2 separate regions of the Homo sapiens genome follow, and region 2 is linked to region 1. The links come from fine-mapping of genetic effects on gene expression. A gene starts in region 1. The other region holds a variant in brackets. All regions are shown on one strand. Distances are between the middles of the regions.

Region 1 (11,242 bases):
GAACATGGATTCCATTACAAAAGCCAAAAAAAAAAAAAGTAAAAACAACAACAACCACCTACTCCTAAACAACAGCAAAACTAATGGACTTTTGGAACAAAGGGCTCTCACCCACCCTCAGCTAAGTACTCAGGTCTGAAGGCAACCACACTGATTATGGAGGCTCCACTTTTTCACTATCCAACTCAAAACTGTCATTGTCAGTCTTTTTTTGAATTCTTTTTAAAGACAAAACTAAACCCAGAAGATCGAACTGGAAATAAAAGCAGACAAAGAGACCACCAAATATACTGTTTAAAAAAACAACAACAACACTGCTCATGGTTTACAGTATGTGGACAGTTCCTTTGTTCATGATAGAGTAAACAAAAGTCCCTTTTGTGTGCTTGAGCAAATGAAAACCAAGAGGAGAAAAACACACACCACCTCCCATCCCCTAAAAACATAATTAACAAAATAAAAAATAAAATAAAAAATCCTTTGCCCCAGTCAACGTTTTTGCAGCATCCATTGTGGTCGGCCTTGTACTTGGAGTTACTCGTTAATCACAGCAGGGACCAGCCTGCCTGCATCTATTTCCATGTCATTTCTTTGTGTGCACTGCACGTGTGTGCTGTGCACATGGCTTGGAGACTCCTCCCAGGTGTCTGCCCAACCGCGCACCGCCTGCTCTCTAGCCAGTGGACGCAGCAGAAAAGAGGAATGGGACGTTAGTCCCTTTTCTGCTAGCAAATAAGGATATCACCGTATTGAAATAATCTAAGGGAAGCAGGGAGCTCTTGAGGATGAAAGGGGATTTGACACACCCACAACAACACTGGGGTCCATGCTTCGCAGCACAGCCAAAGGGTGGTTCCAGTTGGCACAACTAGAAGGCAGTGTGAATTGGAGGGTGTGGTGCTGCCCAGCGTTCTCAGGCTGTCGCATGACAACTATCACCACTGCATTCTTCCATCTGCTTGACTCCAATCTTTCAGAGGGCTGGAAGTGGGGCAGAGGGTGGGGAAGGGAGGGTTAAATAAATATCTGCACTTATTTCAAAAGGGGGAACAGTTGATCATAAAGAGTTTACAAGTGTACACAACTCAAGGTGTAAGGCACAAATTTACATGTGGAAAACAGGCTATTCACAGATGTAACCCCACGAAGAACCCGTGTGATCAAATCATTAATTTATGCAAGGTAGCAGCCAGCATATTAGTTCACACCATTTGTGGATTTTGTTTGCTGTCTCACATGCAAGGTGAAATGGGATGGCATATTGCAAGCTGGTGCCTTCACAGAAAGTCAGAACCATGGACAAAACCATGTTGGCATCAATGAGATATGATGTGCCATTCTAAAAGCTTTCTCTCCTGATTGCTTTAGAAATTAGGATCTGGAAGGACTTTAACATGAATTAGTTTTTTTGCATGTTTATAGGCCAGAGACCTGACCAGGCAATGAACTGATAGATTTAAATAAATATTCCCCTCCTAACTTTTTCCTTTAGCTACAGACCAGACAGTCCAAACACAAAGCTCAGAATTCCAGCTCCAACTTATTTACTCAGTGAATTTATTGTAAAAATAAAGAAACTCAATTATTCCAGTTAATGGATTTCACGTTAAATAGTTTAACTTTCAATGGGCTTTCTGAAGAGCTGTTCATAGGATGATATTTGGAAGAGTCCTTTCCTTAAGGAAAAAAAGGGTGAACAATAAATAAAGAGTTACTTGCGTTAACGGTCACGTTATTTCATTAAAAGAGAGGAGGAGCAGAAATCTATGACATAGTTGCCCAACATGGCATTTATCTGCTGCAACAGAAAGCTGTAACACTGGCGGGCATTTCACAGTATTTGCGCATAGTAAACTTCTGCCATTGTTAAAGTCTGAGTTAGAATTATCAATGAATTCTTTTTTTTTTGTCTTTTTAAATTTTCTTGATTTTAAAAAATGTATTTGTGTTTTGCAGGTTGGAACGCAAACCCAGTCTGGCCACGTCCCGTGAAGTTGTGGACAAAATGTTTCAGTTTCTGTTCACCTCTGTGCGTGTGTGTGTATGTGTTGTGTGCATGTGTGTGTGTGTGTGTGTGTGGGGGTGGGGGATGGGGTAGGTATGTGCTTTTGGCTCATGTTTGTGATGATAACTGAAGTCTTTTGTGGGTCCGACCTGTTGTAGGGTGTGGGGGAAAGTGAAGGAAGAGAATGAAGGTGAGTCCCCGCCGTTGCAAACCTTCACCAAACCACGCGGCCCAGTTTTCGTGAGTACCCCTGTGTCCCAGAGAGGAGGACCCAGCGTCCTCGGCTCTGCCGCAGGCCTTCTTGGTCTGGTGGGTACTCGAGGCAGTTGAGAACCTTGCTGAGCTGAGCGGGCACCTCGCCTTGCCTGCTGGTTCGACACCTGACCCCCTCCCCCTGGGATTATGTACACGCATCATTGGGCTTCATGGATGTGGAAAGGGGAGCAAAGGATGGTTTGGGGGGTACGTCCGGCTTTAGCGAGGGCGTACGCTTCAGCCCCGACCTTGTCAGTGAGTTGTAGGCGTTGAGGCTGGGCTGCCTCGAGACAGTCACGGCCTGGCCAGATGGCTGGGAGCTGTGCACCTGGATGGAGTCCACCCTCTGCGGGGCGGGCGGCGGGTTGTCTCCCCTGCCAAAGCTCTGGTTTCTGGAGAGGTGAGAGGAATTGGAGGAGTTAGTGTTGTTTCTTTTGAGAGTGGTGGCCTGGTGGCTTCTCGTGAGCGAGTTCGTGGGGTAGCTCCTCTTATAGTCAACCCCGTAGGAAGAGGAGTGGTGCATTTCCAGCCGCTTGCTTAGACCGGTCTGAGACAGGGAGGCTCCCGGGGGACCCAGGGAGGCCTCCCGCTGTGGAACTTTGGGGGGCAGGCTGTCCAGGTTCTCCACAAGGTTCACCCCATGGTTGGGACTCTTGCTGCTGAGATGTTCCTTGATGGTCTTATACTCCAGTGTGGCGGCCTGGTCCTCCAGCGCCATCTGGGCCACCTCGCTCATTTTGGGCTGGTCCACGTACTCATGCTGGTAGCCCTGCTGCGTGATGGGCAGGACCACCACGCTGGGGATGTGGCTGGGGGAGGCCCGCAGGGGCAGGTCCGTGGGAATCACAGGGGAGCCCATGGGGGGCATGTCCTTTGTGCAGGCATTGATGAGGTTCTGGTTCCTCTCCCACTCGCGGCTGCCGCGGCTGGGCTTCCGCTTCTGCTGCAGCGTTGGGGTTGACTCTGGGGTGGGGAGGGCCGTCAGGTCCAGGTGGTGCTGGTCTGCTTTAATGAGCATCTTGGCCGTGTTGCCGGGAGTGGCGAGCTTGCCGTTGTGCATGAGTGGCGTGAGGATGGCCTCCGGCTTTGGGTCTTTGGATTGAGTGTCCCCAAAGAGGCCGCTGAGCTTGGTGACGCTGCTCATGGAGCCCCGGCGCGAGTGGGTGAGCTCCTTCTCCTTGCGCTGCACCACAGCCACGTCTTTGCGCCGATGATCACAGACGCAGTAGACGGTGATGCCCGAGAAGACGGCCCCCATGACGAAAGCCAGGATGACTGCAATGGCCAAGAGGGTGACGGGAACCAGCTGGTCGTGGCCTTTGAGGTAACTTTCCCGAATCACTCCTGCAATAGACATCGCATATGGCGTTAAGAAATGAAAGCACACCCCGAGGCTTGTTTTTGCTTGGCATTCACCTTGTTAATTAATAACAGTAGTAAGTGACAACAGCACCTCTGCACAACTTGTCTTCCAAGCTCAGCTTGCCAAACATTAACCAATTAATCCTCCCCAAGCCCCTCGTGTGCAGTATGTAAATGGACTCCATTTGTAGCCTTCTTTGTTGTCTAAAAAAGTGCTGTTCAGGCCGGGCACGGTGACTCACGCCTGTAATCCCAGCACTTTGGGAGGCCGAGGCGGGTGGATCACGAGGTCAGGAGTTGAAGACCAGCCTGGCCAAGATGGTGAAACCCCCGTCTCTACTAAAAAAAAAAAAAAAAAAAAAAAAAATTAGCCAGGCGCGGTGGCGGGGGCTTGTGATCCTAGGTACTCCGGAGGCTGAGGTAGAGAATTGTTTGAACCTGGGAGGTGGAGGTTGCAGTGAAGGGAGATCAGGCCACTGTACTCCAGCCTGGGTGACAGAGCGAGACTCCGTTTCAAAAAAAGAAAGAAAGAAAAGTGCTGTTCACTCTTTCCAGTACCTGCACTTTCTACTCTGCTTCACTCCAGGGAATATGGGAGGTTTTGGCTTTCAAAAGTTATCTTTCTTTCCTTCTTTATGGCTTTTTAACCTTCCCTTCCTAGAACTGGGATAACCAAGTTATCCTGAGTCTGGAGGAAGAGGCAACAATTTTATGCATGTTAGACAAACAAATCACACACTCTGGGCTTCCAGTTGGGATCTTTTCCGACGGCCCCCTTGTGGCCACCGGAGCCTCCGTCTGGGGAAAAGTGTTTGCCTTTTAAGCAACTAGAGGAAAGAGAGTGTGTGTCATTTTTATTTACACTGAGAGAATATAGCTAAAGTTCACAGACTACAAATGTTTGTGCTGATTTTGCATCACCTCTCAAAAAAAAAAAAAAAAAAAAACAGTGCAAACTCAATTTCAGGTAACTATCCTGAATATTTGAATGAAGCTTTCTCACTGGAACTGAAAGAAGATTCAGAAATAAGACCATTTGGGGCCCTGTAGTGGGTTTGAGAAGTGTTAGGTACCATTATTGCACCTAGAGTTTGCTGTCACAGTGGGATTTTTCAGCAGAGCTAATCTCTTCAATTTAATAAAAATTATGTGACTACACCCATCCGTAATCTTACACTACATTAACCAGGATTCAGTGTTTCTGAAGGAAGGTGCTTTCGCTATTCCTGCTTAATCAGCCACCCAGCTGAGTGACTCTAATCAAATGCAAACACAGAAGCTTTTATTTTTTAATACCAAGTGAGAATACACATCACAGTTGTCAGATCTTAAGTGCTTGATGCAGTCGCTAAAAAATAAAATCTCTAATACCTCAATTCCTGCCTCTGGAGAGTGAAAGAACATGAATACATTAGAGGCACTGCATGGGCTGAGGAAATGTAAACATTGTTCCTATTATGGAAATGATAGCAAGACAGAAAAGGTACCTTCTCTGGTCTCGGGAGACGCATTTTTCATCTACTAAATCAACTCTTTCTGGAATATGTTTCATGTATTTTACTGGCAGGTATCAGTGGCACAGAATTAGAATGAAAGGAAATAAAGATCTCTACCCCTTCCCAAGCCCACAACACGCAACCTTAAACTTCTACTGAAATGTTGTCTTTGTCACAGCCGAGACCTTGAAGCTTTCTCATGGGGGTTTTTCTGCTAAAATATTTTGATTTCTGAAGTGATGGTTTTAAAACCCAGAAACCTTAGCCTGAAAAGTACATTCTCTTTTTCTTTCCTTCCTAAGGGTCCTCCTCCCTTCAATTGTGACATCACAGTTGGTTGCTGTGGAAATGATTGTCCTGTGACAAAGGATTGTGACTTAAGTAGAAGCAGCAAATATCTCTTAAGAAATAAAGATTCTGTGATCCAACAAATACCCTTGGTAATAAAAGGCAGTCAAGGCAATTCACCATAAGGAAAGAGTGTACAAGACGGTAAGATATCAAATAATTTTCAAATGTGATACTTTTCAAATATTTCCAGATTTATCTCCATCAGCTTTTAAGGGGTAGAAACTGAGAAGCAAAAAACAGCCGGAAATTTGGCTGTAACTCACACCTTTTATGTGTGAAGCTCCCCAAACAGTGGGGTGTCCTGCATTCAAATATATTTTAGTACCTATTCACCAAGGAAATGTGCTAATGAAAATTTTCTTTCTTAAATTTGCATTTCCTTATTATGCTAAAATAGCTACTGATTTTTCTTCAATTTTGATTATGTATGGGGTTCTACCGAACACCGTTTTTAACCCCCTACATATAATTGCACAAAAATGTACACCTGTGGATAAAATGGTTTTAATTTCTCTCATTGACTTGGTGATTTCAGTGGGAGTTGAACACAGGCTAGACGGCCCCAGTAATGGGGTGGGGGTGTATTAGGTGTTTTTTTCATGGCAATGAGTATTTCATGAAACCCTTCCAGGCTACCAAATTTAGGGGGACTGGATATTCCCAATAAATGTGTATTATAATAGGAAGCTATTTACAATTGACTTTGGCATTCTACAATTTAAACTGCCCTCTCAGTTTAAAAGGAACGTGGAAAGAGTAAAGCTAGAGCAATTCATTGGTTTCACTGGGAAAACTGCAAATTTTTCACATGTATCCATTGCTTCTTAGCCTTACTTTTAGCTCCCAAATATCATTCTTCTTTCATGTCTGAAGGTCCTTGGCTATTTTAGACTCATGAAAGCTACTTATTCTTTCACTGGGAAGAACTCTTTTTTAGTGGATGATATTTGAGTTCAGGTTTTTGGTTGTTAACAAGTTAAGTAGGATCTGACCTTTCAGGAAAATGGTATCTCAGACAGATTTTTTCCCCCGTCTCATTTTGTTATATAAAGAGTGGCCTTAAAAACATTTTTGCATGTCTTCATCTATCCATGGGGAGGCAGAGGGCTTTCCTCATCTGCTTGTGTAAATTCAGAAACGTCCAAAGATGGAAACAGATCAGAGAGTAAGTTGAAAGTGCAGTTGAAGAAGATAAGGTAAACGTTATTTTTGGAAATGCCTTTCAAACTTAAAGCTTTCTGCTTATATCATGAAAAAGGCCAAAGAAGCATTCACAGAAATGATCAAGTCAACTTTGTGGAATAGCCATTGTGAAGGCTTGGAAACAGCAGACTTGTCAGTAGTGGTGATAAAAGCAGCTAGAGAAGATCTCAGTGGGCTTGGAATTGCAGGCTCCCACTTACTGGCTGGGTGACCTTTTGGCAAGTGACTTAACATCTCTGGGCCTCAGTTTTTTTATCTGTAGCATGAGGTGAACACACCTAATCTTACTGCCTTACTGGATTGTTACAAGAATCAAAGGAAATAAAAAATAGGAAAGAGCTTAAATGCTGTAGTTTGCTGGACAAATCTAAAGCTCAAAAGAAGCCACAAAGGAGAAGTGGTGGGTTAGTGGCTCACAGAGGGCTTCCAAGTGATAGTCGCAGCTGCTCCATTGGATTCCATTTGCTATTGGTCTCCCATGGGAGAGGAGTAGACCTGTGCTTCCAGGTCCAAACTTCGTGCCTTCTAAATGTAGTCAAAAAGGTGATATGAGATTTCGAAGCAATATAAGGGAATGCATACTGTTTCAGGATGCCTATAGTTACTGAATTTTGAAATAATTAAAACAACAGAAGTGGAAAATGTTGGCAATTATAGTTGGATTCTCAGTGGAGTGCAAATCCTGGGCAAGTACCACATTTTTTCGGCATTTATAACCCTTGCCATCCACAGAGCTCTTAGTTGGGTAACTCAACAAATGATGGCTGAATAAATGGGTTTTCAATACATTGTAGAGCTATTTTTAAATGAACTTCTAAACTTGGGAGGTAATCTTTAGAGTGACTATCACCCTTGCTTTTGAAGTCATGGAAATAAATTCTATCTCCAATCATATAAAAGAATTTTAATAGTAGCATCTATCAGACAAACAAAAATAAATCTATAATGGTGCTCAGTATTTGCTCAAAACAATAAGAAGAGAAACTATTTCAAAAATGAAATTAGTTCTGGGAAAAATCCAAAAGAGTCGATGACGATAAATGGGTTATTTACAACAACAGAGTGCCCCAGTGGAACTGAATAATTAGAAAAAAAAAAAATGCATCTCTGCAAAGGGCAAAGGGCAAAGGGCAACAGGCTAGAGCTGAGTATCCCTTGCTTCAGATGCTGCCTGGAAGCCCTGGGCAAGTAAAGGGCCCTTGGAGGGTGGTGTACTCCCCTCCGCAGGTATCCTCCCACTGCAGAGAGAACAATCAGAGTTGGCTTCTCTACCCTAGGGTCTTGAAATTCCTTCCTCTGCCAACCCCTGCATCCTCTTCTGCTCTTACCAATTGAAAATGGGGCATTAGTAATGAAAACAGTATTTGAAAAATCCTTTGCATTGATTCATTAACCACCAGCTATTTCTCACCAGTCATAAGGTGCTAAATGGTTAGTCTTTCCACCTTCCTATTGCAGGAAGCAAGGCACACCCTGGCTTAGAGATTTCTCTGAAATCATGTCTTAAATTGGCAGAACTGAGAAAGAATAGAATCTCCACTGTTTTTTTTTTTTTTTCCTGAGGTGAGAGTTTTCAGATGCTGGAGGGAGACCTCAGAGAGGAAATTTGAAGTTCTTTAGAGTCCAAAGCAATGAAAAGATTATGAAGGACCCTGCCCCTAGACCCTGCAACATGTGATTCAAAATAAGAACAATTGTAAACTGAAAACTAAGAGGAAGCCCAATACAATTCTGACTTTTCCTATGATGACCATGTTAATAAATTTTGAAATATCAAACACTACATTCCTTATTTTAAAAAATGTTTTCTAGTAGTCCTGCTCATGGATACTATTCCGTGCAAAGGGAACCTAGCACCAGGCTCTGAGACAATTTGCTTTAGAAATGATGTTTTCCCCTAACTTAGGGTTGGGTTGTTTCTTTATTATCACTCTCCTAGTATAACAAGGTTTTGGCTCCAAGCATCTTTGTGGCTGCCTTCAGCAAACATTTACCAAGCACTGCACTAGGTGTCGGGGAAGGACAATGATGAATGAGGCATAAACCAGCAGGGAAGAAGGCAAGTGCTTGCATACAACTCTGTCCAAAGTGTGGCTATGTCATGAGTTACATCACTTCTGCTTCAACAGTGGGCAAAAGCTTTACATTGGAAATGGCATTTGAGCTAAGCCTTAAAGATGCACAGGATCTTAGCTGGAGCAGAGAGAGCAACAAGAACTGAGCCTTGGAGGGAAGGAAAGGGAAGGCCGTAGTGAGTAATAGCAAATGGTCTAACTCCCTTCTAGTCTGTTAGGCTGGAGGCATGAGCCACCCTTCCATACTCAAGCTTGCTTCATGGCTCTCATACAGGCTGTTCTCTCTGCCTGGAATGTCCCTACTCATTTTCCCACTCATCAGACCCTATCTTTAGGGCTCAGCTTAAATGGGGAAGCCTTCTCTGACTCCTTAGGCCAGTTAAGTTCTTCCTTCTAAAGTGTCCCCAGAGCTCTGCATTCCCTTTATTCTAAAATCATCACTAGTATGATACTTGTTTTTCTCACCTAGACTGCTAAAACTCACCACTGAATCTTCAGGCAGAAAGGTGCTCAGTAAATATCTTTTAAATAAATAGTAAAGGAATGCATACATGAATGAGCACTTGTAGAGAAAATACAAGAGCAAGAGCTAGAAATACCATTTGGAAGGCTGTGGACAGCCTTGAATGATTAAAAAAGAGGTTTAGAAGATCTGCCACTCATAGAAGGAAAGTTCTTGGTTAATTTATCTGCAGTTTCTCTTGCCTGAGAAAGCTAACTTTCGGCTTGCTCTGTTCCACATTGAATCCATTATCGCAAAACTCTTGGCTTCAAAGAGTCAGTATCATTGCATCAAAAGCACAGCTAGTCTACCTGCATTTATTATTACTGTTTTTAAAATTAAAACTCTCAATCTTAAAGTATACTAATGCCCTGCACCTTACACAAATAGCTGGGAGATGTTATCTGTCCTATCAAAATGTGAAGCAAACAGACAAGCAAAAATACGTAAAATTAATCACACCTATTAAGCTAAATACAAAGGAAGAGCTCTACTCACCCCCACCCCAATTACCACCCTAAGCGTGTAAGACACAGGCAACCAGTAACCTAACTCGAAATGGTTAAGTGTGCACTTTCCCCTCTCACCCCCTTTCACTGGACGGCCCGTTTCTGAGCTGCTGTGATATGATGGATGTGTCTGTCTCCATAGTGAAGTGATTAATAGGCATCTGTGTAAAGTGGACCCGGTGACCACAAAGACAACAAAGCCTCTCTGTGTCCTTTAGAGAAATATGCAAAGGCAAAAAGGAGGATGGACATTTCCTCCATCACTGAGCCAGAGAGGGTTTGTGTTGGGTCTGAGAGCTAAGAAAGATGGCAAAACACCAAGAAAAGCCCCGGAGTAGCATCCCCTAAAAATAGATTCTTGATTCTGCTTTATAGTAAGACAAGCCTACAATTTCCTTGAAATCCTCATAACAACTTGAGTGAATGGAATCTAACAGCCCAATTTTTCTTGTTTGCAAATCTTACTGCAACAAAATTCCAGGCTCACGGTCCTGCAAGACAGTATAAATGAATGAACTAATCACTAGCCAAGCATCGCCCCGCTAACCACACAGGGCCCGCTGTAATCCCTATTAAGAAGAGAAGAAAACAAACAAGGGAAAAACCCTAACTGGAGACAATTTATTCTCAAAGCCACACCCCAGCCAGTCGAGGTGACCACGCTGAAAGTGAAATGGGAACTCTCTGTGGTTATCTGGGCAGGAAGCAGCCTTCTTCTTGTCTTACGGCATAATGTGAACCAGATGGCTTAGGAATAAACTGACATGCCAGCAGCCATGGAAATAGGCTTGGAGTTTATAACTTAAAGTTTCCTTTTCCTTTAAGTGTGTGTGTGTGTGTGTGTGCATGTGTGTGTGCGCGTGTGTGTGTATGTATGTGTTTTTCCTGGCAGGCTACAGATTAGGTACCAGGAGGGGCCATGGTCTTCAAGATATATAAAGTTAATGACTGACCATGCCAAAGTGGAGGTAGCTTCCTGGCCTGGCTGTTTAATGTCCTGAATTCAGAAGCTATTTTAAAACTCACATATTGAAATAATGCTTGGAGTGGTTGACTGTAGATGAACCCACTTCCACTTCGATCACCTTTAAAAGTGATGCATTTTTGGTTGGGATGTCATCACAGGGATAGAAGGGAGAATGAGCCTGGAATTCATTCTATTTCATTTTTTTAGAGAAGAAACAGCTTCATTTTTCCCTGTGTGCTGGGAACGCTCAGTTCACTGTTCCTCCACTGCTCTACTGCTTTAGAAATGGCATTGCCAATGGGAGTGCTACAGCCAGAGCACGGGCTGATGTCTAGACTAAGAGTCATGATAAGATAATTTTTAAAAGCCATGCCCTGGAATGCTGGTTTGTGGTTTCATGTGTTAGAACTGTTACTGTCCCCGTAAAGGTAATGATTCTTTTACATTGGCAAAGTTTTAGCAGAGTCTGCAAGGCGTATTTTCCTGCTTTTTGAAGTTTTCTTTCATCAGCTTTCTT
Region 2 (11,422 bases), 150 kb before region 1:
AGGGTATTCTGATCCGTATATTGTTAACTTGGTACCTTAGTGGTGGAAAGAGGGCCTCTAGCTTTCTAGTCTACCCCTATAGCTATTGTTCTTTTAAGAAGTATGTTTTCGAAGTTACATTTCTTCTCTTTCCTCAATGTAACATTTTAGGAAACACCACCTTAAAACAAAGCAAAGCAAAATATAGAAAACAAGAACCTGGCTTGACTGCCACCTTTAGGGGTACATCAGATCAGTTGTTTACGTGCTGATTCAGCCTTCATTCTCTCCTATCTTTTTGGATGGAGGTGAGAGTGATGAACTTGTCTTGCTTTTCTCAGAACTTTAGGGTAAACCTAGGCTTATCATCCTTCCTTAACTGCTAGGAGGGCATATACTATGTATAGATGATGCTGATTAAATCTTTGGAGCTTTAATGATGTGTGACAGCCAATGAATTTTTCTAATATAGTATAAAAACTTCATGATTTTATATCATTCTTAAAGGAAGAGGCTTTAAAGCAGATGTACTTCTTTTTTCATTTTAAAGCTTAAGTACTTAGATATATGAGAGAAAATGAAGAAGTATGGAAATTTGATCCTGTACACTTAGCTTCATGAAGAGTGAGATGCATTTTCTGAACATAGCCCCATTGACTCTTCTGGAATTAGTTGGAGATAATTTGGTTTGAAATGTCGGCTTTGTAAATAGAAATGGAAATCATTAAAACAGATAAAAGTGAACATAGAAACTGCGAACTAGAATAAACAGTATGTTGGAAATGACCATGTGGCTCAATTTTGCATCAGTTTTCTACTTCTTTAGTTCATGATGCCCATTTTATGTCATGTGATTACAGCAGTGTGATCAGAGCAGTTAGCATATTCTTGGCATTTTCTCCTCATTAACTTTCACTTCTTCAGAGGGACCTTGAGTAAAATAAACACATTTGAGCAGTCTTAAGCAAATTGTTTGAATTGTTTCCTCAGTATACAGAATCAACCAAAAGTAGGTTGGATTGAGTTGAGTTGGGTTTAGTTTAATATCATACTTTACTACAGCATCATACATACATATACAATATTACCTAGCATCTGTAGCACCCATAAAGGATTCTCTAATGCATGTGAAGTAAAAGGAAAGAGAGTGTTTAAGTCCTGACTTTGAAACTGTTGTGTTAATTGTGAACTTTTGCTGAGTCTATACATTGAAGAAGGTAACACTCAGCATGTTGAGATCACAACTGCTAGATTAGTGCTTGGAGGCAGTAGCTGTGCTGATGTGAGGCATTAATGGCTGGGTGAGTTCAATCAGATATCCTGCCTCCAGTGTCTTTGTGTAATGGTATTTACTAGATTTCAAACAGACTGCTGAGAAAGATGAAATATAATCTCATGTATTATCTCTGTCTTGAAAAAATTAGATAATAAAGTTGTTCTCTTACTGGCATATGTTTTATTAACCTTCGTAGAGTCAACTTAAAGGACAGATGTCTGTAGAATTGAAACCTTTTGCTAGAGTGTTATTAAGTGCATTTTTGAGTTCTAGGAATCATGGGGTTGAGTAGAGCAGGTAAGCATTTTTTAAAACCACTCAGAGGACAATCTTATGTCATATTCTGAGGTTAGCTGGAGAGAAAAAATGTGATGTAAATTGTGTGCAACTACATTCTTTTTGTTGTTTTTCTTCCTTACAGAGCCTGGAGAAAGTTCTTGTGGAATTCAGTCACAAGGAGTTGTTTGATTTCTATAACAAGGTCTGTATTTTTAAAATAATTTTCTAATATGTGGAGTTTTTTTCATAATATTTTGTTTCATTTTATGAATTCTTATTTTTAAATGTCATATTATGGAACTAAGTTCTTTAAACTTCCCTTATAAAAGACCTTATGTTTCACAGGAGGAAGTATAGCAGAAATGAAGAGAATTTGAAAAACTAAATCAGGAAGAAAAGGAAAATAGTTTTAATTAAAGCAATAGGATTGTTGCTTTAATATAAAACATTAAGTAATGAACTTTGTGATTCCTAGCCACACTGACACTTTAAATATATATAATGTCAAATACTTTAATTTCTGGGCCCAAGGGTAAAGGGAAACATGCCTTTAGAGATTTATCTGTGAGTATATTTCATGTCTCTTTCTGAAGACTGATTTTGTAATCCAGGAAAATATACTCCCTCCACCCCCCAACTTTAAAATATTATCAAGTAGGCAGTTCTTCTGCCAGTGTACTGCCACTGGAGCATGCGTGTGGTTATCCTGTTCAGCCCACCACCACTGTACCCACTCCCTCATATGTAAGCCTCCAATAAAACCCCATGTCTCATTAAAAAAAAAATTATGGAGTGATAATTTAAAAGGAAACAGCTGAAGACACTTAAAACAACAGTATTAAGAAATCTTCTTTCTTTGAAAATTTGAAAACTTAAATTTTCAAGCACAAATTCTAATATCTTCACCTAAAAAGAAAAATATTCTAAGTGGTAATTTTATTGCTATGTGAATGGATTTAATATTCATAGTTACCAGTGCTATTTTTTCCTTTCTATTTGCATGTGTCTGAATAACACTTGATATGAGTTTCGTTCCCTTCACTAACGTCTTTTTTTTTTTTTGTCTTTGTAAATAGCTAGAGACTATACAAGCACAGCTGGATTCCCTTACATGATGTTTTCGAAGACTGTTTTTTTCATCACGCTCCTGCCACCTCATTATTTTGCATTGAAGATACATTGCCAGGTTGTGTTTTCTGAAGGATTCAGTGACTTGCTTTCTGTAAATTATATGGCTTATCACTTCTTAGACAAATAACAACCAATAGAGATCATTGTTAAGAATACTGAGGTTCTAATATACTTTCTTTAGTTCTGTGAGCCAACAGTAATTATTAAGAACACTTTCCCTTTAAAGGAAACAAAAGTGAATACCATATTGTTTTTACTGTCATAGTGTTGCTTTCTTGCCTGTCCTGCTTAGTTTTTACTTGCTGGATGATACCATAATGTATCAAGGAGCGTCCATGGATACAAGATAAGATGTGTACCTTAGTAGAATACAGAGCTTTGGTAATTACATGAATAAAATTAAGAAAATAGCCATATACAATCAAATACACTATGGCATTTTTATTTGAATATGATGAGTATATTTTGCTTCGGAAATAATATAGGAAGGAAATGTAAAATAGTGAGTAGTATGGTATCAGTTAATTCCAGTCTGAGCTTCTCTGTCAACTTCAGTTTCTCTCTCAGTTTAATGATTTAATAATAGTCCAGGTTTTTGTGTGTTTTTCTTTATACTGCAAATTAATAATGATTCACTTTATAGTTTGGGAGACAGAATCAGGTCTTGAATAAAATAATTGTAATGAGTGCTAAATGGGCACCATTATTCGAATCAGATACCTTTTATATTCTCTTTCCATAAATACGTTGATTTCTGTCAATAAAATTTTTGTGTCTTAGGATTGGTTGAAGTGTACATTTTTTAATTATATACATTATAGTATATTTTATGCCATGAATGTATGTAAATGAATACATTTACGTACATTTGTTAAAATGTATGTAATGAATACATTTACATACATTTGTTTAAAAAAAACTTGAATTTTTTATGAATGAAATTTCTGTATTGTTTCCAAAAAGAGAGAGATTCAAACATGACTT[G/T]CTTCACATGAAGAAATTTGATTTCAGAAATGTCCTATATTTAAATAAGCAAAGCCATTGAAATTGAAGCACATTTCTTATTTGAAGCATCTGGGAAATACAACTGTTAAGTATCTCTCAAATATTCAGTATATGGAATTTATACCCACATTTGTTTGTATATCTATTTGTAAGCTGTTGCTTAGAAGAATTGAGAGTTTGGATTATTTCAGAATACAACTATTACAGTTTTCCATAGTTGATTGAAAGTTTTTAAACTCAAACTTTCATTGGTAGAATATCTGGAAGGCATGTTTGCAATATAATGTGGCTTGTAGGATCTCTCCTACTTTTTTACGCTCTGTTTTGCCAGTTCTCAAAAGTAAATACCTGAAGTCCTAGAGGTACTATAAACATTTTGGTAAACATTCTTTGAGACTTTTTCTCATGTACATGTAAATATACATCATCCCAAGTTAAATTTGATAGGCCTTCCTGACAGTAGCCATATAGATAAATAGAAGTTTTCGTTGGTTTAGTGGCAAAACTGAATTCTTAATGTAGGTATACAAGTTAAATATGATGGTTAGAAATGAAGTTTTCTGAAAGTAGTTCGTTGTATGCTCCCTAAAAGAATTAGCTTTATATTTATCTTAAGAATATCTCTAAACCTATGCAAAAATATGGCAAATAGTCTTCTTTCCATTAGTCTAGTTCAACAAAATCTGACTCAGAGACAGTAAAGAAAGGGCAAGTAGAAGATCTAATGCCAACTAAGAAGATAATTATTTCTGAAATATTTAGTTGAAGATAACTTTCTTTCTTAAGACATTACTGTTGTTATGATGCACAAGTCAAAGAACATGTGGCATTTCCAAAGAGTATTAAATGCATGTTACTTTTTTATAAAAATAAGATAAATGAGATTAATGGGGCTTGGAACTGCAATCTTGGTAAATAAAGTTACTGTATGTCTTTCACGAGTGTGTGACATGAGGATTGAATAGACAGAATTGCTTGTTAGAAAGAGGAACTAATTTTTGTATCTATTACAAATTATATTTGTAATTCTTCCCTAATTATAAATTATCATGATTATTTTTATTTGGGAAATACCAAAAAATCATAAATAACTAATCTAAACTTACAGAATCCTATCATCCAAAAATGGCCATTAATGACAGTTTGATAGATTTATTGCAGTTTTTTTGTATCCATTTATCTTTCTTGTTCATTTTTTCTTCTTTCCTAACAAATTGAAGTAATGCCATAAATTCTGTTTCATACTTTGCTTTATGTACCCTTACAGCATGAACATTTTTCATATCTTTATTGCCCAAACATAATTTTAATGTATATTAAATAGTTCATCATTTGAATGATCTATACTTTATATACTTTATATTTCTCAAAATAATTAAATTGTCCAAATTTTGGCACATTTAGATTATTCAAATTTTTGAACGTAGGGAACTCACTGATAAATATAATTATACATAAACCCTAGACCACATCTCTCGTGATATTATTAGTATAGATTCCTAGAAGTAGAGTTGCTATGTCAAAAGTATGAAGATTTATTTTCTATTTTCATCTTTAATCGGATTTTCATTATAAAAAAACAAGGCCAGGTGTGGTGGCTTATGCCTGTAATCCCAACACTTTGGGAGGCTGAGGCAGGAGGATCACCTGAACCCAGGAGTTTGAGAACAGCCCACGCGACATGGCAAAGCCTTATTTCTATAAAAAAATACAAAAATTATCCAGGCTTGGTGGTGCATGCCTATAGTCTCAGCTACTCAGGAGGCTGAGGTGGGAGGATCACCTGAGCCCAGGAGGTTGAGGCTGCGAGTCATTCTATCATCCCACTGCACTTCAGCCTAGGTGACAGAATGAGACCTTTTCTCATACATATATATATAGCTGCCCATTAAAACAAAGTTGCACCATTTTGCCATCTCACTTCCTGGAAGTACCTACCTAATACTGCAGACATTTGGTGGGTGCAGTAGCTCATGTCTGTAATCCTAGCACTTTGGGAGGCTGAGGTGGGCAGATTGCTGGAGCCCGGGAGATTGAGACCACCATGGTCAACATAGTGAGTCCTGTCTCTACAAAAAAAAAAAAAAAAAAAAAAAAAAATAATAATAATAATAAATTAGCCAGGTGTGGTGGCACACACCTGTGGTCCCAGCTACTTGGGAGGCTGAGGTGGGAGAACTGCTTGAGCCCAGGCAGTTGAGGCTGTAGTGAGCTGTGATCATGCCACTGCCCTTTAGCATGGGCAACAGAGCAAAACCCCATCTCAACACACAAAAAACCAGACATCTTATAATACAAATATACACACCTCTTGTGTATTTTCAAAAATACATTTATATTTATTTCAAGGCCTTTGATATATATTGCTAAATTGTTTCTCCAAAGGATTATATTAATTTGTACTCCCACAAACAATGAATGAGAACTCACTTGCCTCAAGCCACCTTCAGCAGCCCCTTCTTCCTTCTATACATTTCACCCTCAACATTTTTTATAACCTGAGGTCAGTGTTTGTTTAGGAAGAGTGATGGGACATATTGAGATATGTCACTTTGATAACTATAGAAGGATTGAAAAGGAAATCTCTTTAAAAATCAAATATGAGAGCCAATAACTCAGTATTCAAGTGTAAGGGCTTCGAAGTCAGGCATTTATTTATTCAACAAGTAATCACTGCTGAGTATGGTGAATATGGTGGCAGGAACTGTGTATGCTAGGTACCATGTTTACAGTGATAGGCAAAACTAGTTCTTGGCCTCTTGAAATGTAATGTGTTAGTGAAAAGTAAACAAATATGGAATAAATGAACAAATATGGGACAAAATATAATTGGATTCTATTCAGAGAAAATTAATGATGGAACCAAACTTGGACTGGGGCATCAAGGAAGGATTCTCTGAGGAGTGAGATTTGAGCTGAGTCCAATATGATGAGTTAAGATGGCACAATAGTAGAATAGAGTGACAGGCATTCTAGAGAGAATGGCCCATGCAAAATCTCAGAGGATGGGAAAGGCTTAGCGCATTTCAGGAACCAAAAGGTCAGTGTGGCTAGAGTGTAGTGAACAGATGGCATAGTGGAGTGCACTACAATTAGGTAGACAGGGAGCCATTCTCTTACAAGTTTTGTCGTTTTTACCACCAAAATGTATTGCAAGTGTATCTCCAGGGCACTACCCTGTCCAAGCTGCCATCAACTTTGCCCTGGACCACCTTTCTTCCATTCTAGCCCTCCTCCAGTCCAGTCGTTGTACAGAGCTAATTTTTAAAAAATAACCTATTAATTATACCATCTCCCTGCCTAAAACCCTTCAAAGGATCCTATTACACATTAAGTAAAATTTAACGATCTGGTTTCTCAGGACAGTGCAAAGGTTATATCCTTGTTCTTCTACTTTGTGTGTGTGTGTTGAGCAAGTTAATTTGTGAAAGTTCACTTTACTTATCTTTGTAATAGGAATAATAATCTAACTAACATGAGTGTTTTGAAGATTAAGTGAAATTCATGTTAAACATTTAGCATAATCCTTGAATCTCAATCATATAATAAGCATTAGCTGACATTTTTATAATCATTAAGAAAATAAGCAGACTCTCTGTTGAAATTTTTCCAGGTGAAGTTTGAATTAGAGTCAAAATTGTAGAAAGCTTGCTATGAAGCCCCTTCACTTTAAACTTATTTGGCATTCTAATAACAACTCCATTTTATAATCACAGATTCTAACACAATGCCAATTCTGCTTTTATTTTTTATTTAAAAAATGAGGTAATACATGTATTATGGGACCAGAATGAAAAAAATACTTTCTTCTGAGTACCTTTCCACGTGGCTCTTCTGGCTCTGAGAAATCTTTTTCTCTACTCAGTGAACTTTGATTTCTTCTTACCGTAAATAATGTCTTCTACACTTTATTCATTATACCAAGGATCAGCAAATGATGGACATGACCCACCACTTGTCTTTGTAAATAAAGTTTTATTGGAACACAGTTGTCTTGCTACCAAACTCACTCTTGAGACTTTCTCCCTTCCTTGCTTTGAAGAAATAATACCATGTTATAAGAGAGGCTGCGGATAGGGCTACATGACAAGGAACTGAGGGTGACCTCTAGGGGCTGAGGGAGAACAGCCAGCAAGAAATTGAGGCCCTTAGCCTTATAGCCTCTATGAAATAAATTCTGCGAACAACCTTGAATTAGCCTGGAAATGGGTTTTCTTGTCGTTTTTTTGTTTGGCTTTGTTTTGTTTTTTTCCCTGTTAAGCTTCTGGATGAGAGCACAGTCCAACTGACTCTTATTGCAGCCTTGTGAGATTTTAAACAAAGGACCCAACTAAACTATGCTTGAACTCTACCCATGGTAATTGTGAGATGATAACTCTGTTGTTTTAAACCTCTAACTTTGTAGTAATTTGTTACGCTGCAATAGATAACTAAAACAACAGCCATGCTCAATTGTTTACATATGGTCTGTAGCTGCTTTTGAACAACAGCAGGGTTGAGTAGTTGCAGCAGAGACCATATGGCCCACAAAGCCTAAAACCTGGCCCTTTATAGAAAGAAAGGATGCAGAACCCTGCTTTATACTATGCTCTCTAAACCGGAGCATCCCTAGAGAAATAAAGTAGTTGGTAGGGAACACAAAAAGTCGTAAGATGGACGTTGTATATATTTCAATAGCATCACTTCTACTTTTTGCCAGAAGTAGAAGAAATTACATTTTCTATCCTCTTTTGCAGCTACTGCAGCCGTGGAACTAAGTGTTGCTAATGAATTGTGAATGGAAGTGATCATTCATCTCCAGTTGTCTTCCTCTTTCTGTGATTGAAACCCAGATTTGGAGCTGAGTCAGCTTTGAGCAGACAAGAATGCTAATGCTTAAGAGGTAGGGAGCAACAAGATGGAAGGAACCTGGGTCCCTGAATATACTTATAGAACACAGCTGTCTCCATGCCCTTGACAGAAATAAAATATCTTGTTTGAGTTATTAAATTTGGGGTCAGTTTAGGCTATACACAGCACGTTTGCCTGTAGCCTAACTAATATGGTGGCAACATAATTTTATTATAATTGGCCAGTAATGTACAACATATTTTAAAATGGAGATTTACATTTTATGGCAAAATGCATATAAATGTTAAAGAGGAAATGGGAAACCTTAAAAAACAGAACAAAACCTTTGTGCTTGCAGCCTGCGAATTCAGGCTAAATTCTCAGTGTTACTGGGAACCTATATTCACCTCCCTCCTTCAGTGTGGTTATTTTGAGACAAATGTTTTGAGAAACCATAAGGGTATATTGTAAATTTCCCCCAAAGTCTTTCCATAATTCTTTTTCTACTGTTGAATAAGAGGACTGGGATGGTTCTGATTTATTCAGATGCATTAGTCAGAAGCTACTCAGGAATTATAATTTAAATTTCTGATCAATTTTGCTTCCCTAAAACTTTGATTTTTTTTTTGCCATCATTATGCAAATAGTCCTACTCAATAGACCAGCTTCATTTAATGCTAAAATTAGGAACACATTAATTTGAGGTATTTTATAGTAAAGCTTAATGGCATTTTTAATTTTGGAGAATTTTAAGGATTTTTAACCATTGCTCCCATCTCGCCATATGCACACTCCTGAAGTATTTTTGAAGCTCTTTTGCTTTTCTCTGAACTATAAGGTTGTACTAGCTGTTATGGAGGCCTACAATCCAAATCTAAATGATGGCAGTTTTCATAGCCTACTTTGTTTTATTTGAAATGGAAAGTTACTGATTTTTATTTCAAAAGAAGTAGTCTGCAAAGACAGGAAAGGTGAAGCCAGTCCAGTCAACAAATCTGTAAGGAAGATGGTGCTAGAGGCTTAGAGAGACTGTTTCAATCTCCAAGGCAGGAAAAATAATGAATATATAATAATCTTCTTTTAGTGAAACCAGAGTTCAGTCATTTTTAGCATCTTTTAATGAGAACCTGATTTTTTAATGATTTTTAAAGATTTTTCCTTCAAAAAATCTAGGTAAAGGAAAGCAGTTAATAGTAAATTTAATAGTTGCATTTATTTTTTTCTGACTTATGTTTGTATTTTTTTAATTGGCAAATAAAAATTAAAAACACTGTACATTCTACCCAAAACTTTAAAGGAAAGTCAATAATAAAGTTTTTTAAATCTATGATAAATATAGACTTGCTGTAAGGCAAGGAGTGCAGTGATTTCTCAAGGCCTTTCCTCATCTCTCCTTCTGAGATTTCTAAGTTTCCTTTGTGCACTATTTTTAGTCCACATTTCAAATTATTCTGCAGTTTCAACCAGACTACATAAGGGGACAAAGGAAAAAGCTGCTGTCCCCTGGATAAGGCTGCTTTAACACATCAACCTTGGAAGCTCCAGCATTCCTCTCCATCCCAAGAATGTGTTTATGCTTTGACAGAGGAGCAGAGTAATTTCCAGCTGATCAGAGAAAAGGTGACTTGTGTATTCCAGACCATGTGTTCTACTTTGCAGTCCAGCTTCTTACTCTCTTTCATGCTGCTGCAAGTAGTTCTACGAACATTGGGGTGCTTTAGAAATACTGAATGAATGAATTAATAGAGTATGTAGTTTTTTTCTGCCTTGGGCTCTCTCCATTTATTTGCACAGTACTATCTAAATTCTTAAAATAATTGTAAACTTAAAGTTGTACAAAAGTAGTTTTCAAACTGGTTTAGCCAGCTATGCTGGTATTTGGTAATTCCATTAGGGAATAGCCACATCCCTTCTAGGGAGTATCTCCTGAGGTCACTGATCCTTTTATTCATCATCCAGGAGATAAACATGAGAATAAAAGCCTTATAACCAGCCAGAGACCCAGATTTCTGCCCTCCAGAAGGCTAGAGCAAGTTCTCGCATTGCTGTGAAGAGATTTATGATAGTCATGAAGTTGACCTACACATGCTTCTGGGTACTGATGCTGCAAGACTGAAAACAGTTACATTCCTAGCAATTTCAGAGTTGTTTTATGTGATAGGGTCAAAATGAAGTGCTCCAGAGAGACATCAACAACATTCTTATACTGAAATATATGTTCAGTGTGTATAGATTTTCTGAGCTCATTACCCAGAAGATTTTAATTTCCTGCTGAAAAGAGTATCTTGATTAAAGACACACATAGACACACACACACACACACACACTCCTGTACACACTGCCTACAAACAGGCTTTCCTCACTGATGTGGGACAATTCTGACAAAGTTTTTTTAAGTCTCCCTTTACATGGCACAGATTGTTCCAACTTATCACAAATATACCAGCTGGACAAAAATCAGATAAAGTTGACATAGATAGTACAGAAAGCAGGCAAGATAAACAGAGCCACACAGAAAGCTGTTCAGTAACAGTTTAGTTTAATTTTATGCAACTAAGACTGTGCCTTTAGATGTAGAGCCCAATGTGAGGGATCAGTTTCTTATGATAGAGTAATATTTATAACATCTAACTTTTCTACCTTATGGCAGAATGCCCTGTGAATCCTTGAAACTCAAGGCCTTCTTTGTCAGAGTTTTGGTTCTTACTGCAAAGTATGTTCTTTCCTTATGTCATCCAAACAAAGTAACTAGAGTAGTAAAAAGAAAGTCAGTGAGTTTGGATGCATTGGCTTTCTGGACTTGCAAATTATCCAGTGCAGGCATTTCTCACACAGCAGGCTTGGAGGACTCTGGGGGTGGCCACCTTTGCTAGATATGCTATTAACCTCCTTCATATGGTTGGGTCAGTGATCTTGTAAAGT

Evidence for each region.
Region 2: its variant is fine-mapped to the expression of SEMA6A-AS1 in T cells (TOPMed, PIP 0.95).

Annotation. Positions count from the first base shown.
Region 1 is chr5:116,444,208-116,455,449 of GRCh38, forward strand. SEMA6A-AS1 (SEMA6A antisense RNA 1) reads left to right here and starts at 3,291. Exons shown (of 3, transcript NR_109879.1): 1 at 3,291-3,584; 2 at 5,421-5,610. It overlaps SEMA6A (semaphorin 6A), which reads right to left. Exons shown (of 19, transcript NM_020796.5): 19 at 1-3,604. The coding sequence ends at 2,406. RefSeq lists a silencer at 10,497-10,576.
Region 2 is chr5:116,289,841-116,301,262 of GRCh38, forward strand. COMMD10 (COMM domain containing 10) reads left to right here. Exons shown (of 7, transcript NM_016144.4): 6 at 1,677-1,736; 7 at 2,611-3,447. The coding sequence ends at 2,649. Among named protein-coding and RNA genes, the nearest start is that of MIR12130, 40 kb to the left of the region's middle. The variant G/T (reference allele first, on the strand shown) is at 3,650.